2 separate regions of the Homo sapiens genome follow, and region 2 is linked to region 1. The links come from fine-mapping of genetic effects on gene expression. A gene starts in region 1. The other region holds a variant in brackets. All regions are shown on one strand. Distances are between the middles of the regions.

Evidence for each region. PIP is the estimated chance that this variant, and not a neighbour inherited with it, causes the effect.
Region 2: its variant is the best candidate, but not a certain one, in a credible set for the expression of NSD1 in neutrophils (BLUEPRINT, PIP 0.81).

What each region holds. Positions count from the first base shown.
Region 1 is chr5:177,132,363-177,134,862 of GRCh38, forward strand. NSD1 (nuclear receptor binding SET domain protein 1) reads left to right here and starts at 1,411. Exons shown (of 23, transcript NM_022455.5): 1 at 1,411-1,590. RefSeq lists enhancers at 402-953, 446-740, 954-1,507, 1,508-2,059, 2,060-2,500 and silencers at 777-1,446, 1,527-1,686, 1,747-2,046.
Region 2 is chr5:176,932,406-176,934,905 of GRCh38, forward strand. The region is part of intron 10 of UIMC1 (ubiquitin interaction motif containing 1); the gene reads right to left. Among named protein-coding and RNA genes, the nearest start is that of HK3, 34 kb to the left of the region's middle. The variant A/T (reference allele first, on the strand shown) is at 1,305.

The DNA of each region.
Region 1 (2,500 bases):
TCCCGGCCCCCAGCCCGGCGCGCACGCACATACCCACGCCGGCCGGCGCCCGCTGCCCGAGCCCCCGTGCCAGGCCCAGACCTTGACTAGGCGCGGGAGGCGGTGCAGGGACTAGAGGACCCCCTCCCCCGGCGTTCCCCTCGCCCCGCCCGAGGCTGCGAGGACCCCTGGGCTCGGGGGTGGTGAGGGAGCTTCGTCCCGGCTGGGCCCGGGCTGGGGACTCGGCCTCCCTGGGCGGGGGCCGCACGGCTGCAGGCCGAGGTGCGGACGCGCTGTCAGGCTGCAGCCCGGCTCGGTGCCGGGGGTGGGCTCAGCGCTGGGGTCGCCTGGCTTCGTTCCCCCGCGGAGGCCACGGCCGGGCGAGCAGTGCCGGGGCGGGTAACCCGACCCGGCTCCCCAGAGCCGCTCACCCCGCACGGCCCGGCAAGGGGAGGGAGAGGGATGGGGGGAGGGGGAAGGGAAGGGGTGGTGGGTGAGGGGCTGTGGGCACCGCAGGGCCGAGTCCCCGGCCCGTCTGCGCTGCTGTAGGGCGGCTGCCCGCGGCACCCGGGACGATCCAGCCTCTGCCTCGCGGGCGTCGAGCCTGAGACAGGAGGGAGCCCTGGGGCTGCACAGGCTTGGCTCAGGGAGGCAGACCCGAGCTGCTGCCTCCATTTTGTTTCCTGCTCAGCTTGGTCTGTGGTGGTGGTGGTGGTGGTGGTGTGGGTTTGGGGTGCGGCCGGGTAGGGGGTTCGCCTGCGGCCGCGTCTGCTCGGGGCCTGAGGCCTCGAAGACCCCAGCCCAAGCCCCCAGGTGAGCCCTGCGGCAGGAGGGGGGTTGCCTTGGCCTCGGGCCGAACCCAGCGGGCTGAGGGCAGGTGCCCAGTGGATGGGGAGCCTGGGCTGTAACCTAAGATGGAGGCCGGGACTGACGCGGGCCCGAGCAGGGCTGGCGGGACGATCGGACAGGCCTCAGCCGCGCCAGGTGCCGCCTGGGTTGGGGTTCGAGACGCGTAGGGTGCGGGAGCCGTGTGCGGCCCGAGGCCAGCGCCGTGCCCCGAGGTAGGTGAGGGGATCGGAATGCCACCCACGACGCCCGCAGGCCCCGACACTCCAAGGAGGCGCGCGAGGCCCCTGGGGAGCCCGCCTCAGGCCCCGCCCGGGCAGCCGGGCCGGCCCGTAGGCCCCGGCCGCGAGCGGGCGCGCAGGGGGAGGGGAGGGGGCGGCAGCGGCAGCTCCGCTGATTGGGCGGCGCTCTCACAAGCCCGACTTCACCCGCCCTGAACCCCGAAGAGTGAGAGAAGGGAACGCGCGCGCTCGGTGGGGGAAGGGGTGCGCGCGCACTCGGGGCCCAGCCGCACGCGGGCCGGCGCGAGGCGCTCGGTCGCACGCGCGGCCGCGGGGGCGCGCGCGGTGGGGGTGTGAGGAGGAGGAGGCGGCGGCGGAATAGGCCGGGGCAGGTCGCGCTCGCTGCCTTCTCCCCTGAAGAGAGACGCGGGGGGAGGGGGGTGCGGCGAGCGGCCCCGCTCTCTCCCCACCGCTCCGCTCGCACCCCAGTGTAATGAGGGTCACCCCCTCCCCCCAGCTGGCCCGGGAGGGGGCGCGGGGCACGGTAACTAGTGCGCTGGGGTGGGCGGCGGGCAGGCGCGAGGAGAAGGGAGGGAGGAGGGTGGCCGGGCGGGGAAGATGGTGGTGGCCGTAAGGTGAGGGGCTCGGGGGAGGGCCAGGCGCGATGCGGGGTTGGTGGCCGGCGGCGCTGCAGCCGCCGGCCTCCTCCCCCTCCCCCTCCTCCATCACTACCAGCCGGGCTCAGGCCTAGCTGGCCGGGCTGCCGCGAACTTCCTCCCGGCGCGGCCCGTGCCCCGCCGGCCGCCTGCGAACACCTCGGCCTCCGCCTCCCCTCAGGTAGCAGGCTGCGGGGCGCGGGGCCGGCTGCCCTCCCGCAGCAAACTTTGCTTGCTGCTGAATATTGATGAGAGCGATCGGCTCGGCTGGGAGGTGCTGCCGCGGCTGCGGGAAGGAGCGCGGCCCGGGCAGGCGGCGGCGGCGTCGGCAGCAGCCATGTTTTTCGAGCTGTAGCAGCTGCTGCTACCCTGACTGGGCTTCGCTGGCCGCCTCGGTTTCTCCCTCTGCCGGGTCCAGGCCTCTTCGCCCTGCAGCTGCGGATCCAGCAGGCCTGCATTCAGGAAGGCGAGCTCTGGGGTGCAGCCGCCTCGGCCGGCTCGCCTGCGGCCTGCGCACCGCCGCTGCAAAGGCTCCGGCGCTGGCTGGGCGCAGGGTGCAGCGCTATTGTGACCGCTGCGCCCTAGCGAGCCAGGAAGGGGGGGGTACCTTTTTGTGCAGGGTCCAGGAGCCCCCCTCGGACCCCGCAGCCTTTTGCTTTTGAGAGATCCAGCTGCTCGACCCCTGGCGAGGGAGGGGGAGGACTAGTCCTGTTTGAGAATTGGGAATTTTGACGGGCAGAGGGGTTTTAATTTTAGTTCATCCCAAGTGTCCACCAGTCTACAGAGGAGGAAAAAGAG
Region 2 (2,500 bases), 200 kb before region 1:
ATAAGCAATGTCATGAATATAAATAATTTCAAACGGCATGTTAGATGACGTTTATGATGTAATACGGGGGGGCGGCAAATATAAAAACAGGAGACAGATATAGATAGATAGACAGATAGACAGACAGACAGACAGACAGACAAACATCAGCAGAATCCCAGATATGTATCAGCCGAATCCTAATACTGGGAGGGAAAGTGCTTGCTCTTGCAACCTACCAGAAAGAATAAATATAGCAAAATACATGTATTTCACTCGTTGGTTTCATTTCTATTACTTTTCTATTCAGTGGAAGAAGGTACCTTTTTAAATTCCCAGTTGCTCTGGAGATACATCCCAGTTCCTTTAAACCTAATACTTTGGGCATCCAGCCCCTGCTGACCCCCGGTGACCAGGCCGCACCTCCTCTTCATTCTATCTCTAGCTTCTTCATCCAGTCAGCAATAGCAATGCTTTTTTTTTTTTTTTTTTTTTTTACAGGAATGGAACAGCATGGAGGCAATGACTTCTTTATCCTTTCTACTTGCTGCCCACCCACCCTCTCAATTCCACATGGATTTGAATACTCTTTTCCCCACATCAGTGCCACTTCTGTTCACACCGATTAGACCTTTCTGCAGGATCAGCACTGCTTCTACTTCAAGAAATAAAAGCTTTGGCAGTGTTCACACAAGAAGGGGGCTGCTGGCCCAGGCTGCATAAATCTGGAAATTTTGTGAGAACTGACGGGTGAGTGAAACAAACCCTGGAAAGCACCTTCGAGGCAAAAAGTAAATCACTTATAAAGAACTTGTATAAACTATAAGAACAATACTGAGATCCCAACAGACACTGAGGCAAACTTCAGAGAATTCTTCTTCGAAGAAGAAATATAAATTGACTTTTTAAAAAACAAAAAATGTCAACTTCACTACTAATCAAAGAAACATGAAGTACAATGAAATGCCATTGGTTACTATCTATTACTATGCCATATATTTTTTAAAAGAATATCCCTCAGTATTTGGAGGCAAAAGGAATGCTCTCATAAGCTACTGGTAACTTTATACATATAATCTAGTAATTACACTTTTAGTAATCCATATTAAAGAACTACATTACAAGGCTCATTGCTAGTTTAGATTTTTTTTTTTTTCTTTTTTTGAGACAGGGTCTTGCTCAGTCACTCAGGCTGGAGTGGAGTGGTGCAATCACAATCACAGCTCACTGTAGCCTCCAACTCCTGGGCTCAAGTGATCTTCCCACCTCAGCCTCCGAAGTAACTGGGACTACAGGCATGTACCACCACACAAAGCTAATTTTTT[A/T]TTTTTTGCAGAGATAGTGTCTTCCTATGTTGCTCAGGCTGGTCTTGAACTCCTGGCTTTAACTGATCCTCCCACCTCAGCGTCCCAATGTGCTTGGATTACAGGTGTGAACTACCATGACTGACCCTAGATGTTTATCTTTAATAGAAAAAAAAATAGGTTAAAAAAAGTCATGCCCAATATTAGGGGAACAATTAAGCAAGAAGCCCTCCCTTACTCCACCAATCACCAATCAGATTTAATACCTTCCTTTGTGGGTGGTTAGTGCTTACATCTTAGCATTTCGACTGAGTTGTACTATACATAGTCATACCCAAGTCTGTTTCCCTTGCTGGACTGTAAACTCTCTGAGTATAAATTTGAGATCCTATTCAGATCTGTATTATATCCCTTACCATCTTTTGGGTCTTTTAGGCCCCTCCTCCCTACCCTCAGCATCCAGCACAATATTTCACTAACAGCAGGATATGAAAAAATCTTAAGGTGAACCACTATAAAAAGCAATTAATCAATGACTTTAGAGATAAAATAATTTTATATAGAAAAAGACATATAAACACTTTAGAGGTATGAACAAACACTAAATTTAGAACTGCCTTAATTCAACCATAATTTAGAATAAGCTCAAATTCCATGAGAATGCAGGAATGAGTATTAGATCAAAGGAGTCAGAGTAAGCAGTCATGTCCCTTTACGTTTTCTCCGTCTTCCTGCCTCAAACATACATGAGAAGCCTAGAGATGCAACGGGTATCTTGAAACCGTGAATCAAGCCACAAGTTTATGACTGTAGCACCAAAGGCAAAAGCCTGATCCTCAATTATGTCAATGAGCCAACTGCCTCACTCTGGACTTGTGACGTGAGGAGAAAGAAATCCCACGTGTTAAACCCACTGTTAATGATGTTTTCTGTTATTGTGACTTACAGAATTTTCTGACAGATACTAACAGAATTTCTCATAGTTAGTAAAAGGGTTTTCCTTTACTTGTTCTGACTTGTACCCATCTACTTGGTTACAGTGACTACACCGTAAGTGGACACTTCAATCAAGAAAGGCCTATCAGAGTCTTCCTCTAGACTAACCTATGGTCTGAGGGAAAAAAAAATTCTTTCTTTCCATTAAAAGCTATGGCTGCTGGCAGCCATTTTGCTTGTCCCTTAAGAAGAGGCCATCTGTTGAACAGAGACCACTGGAT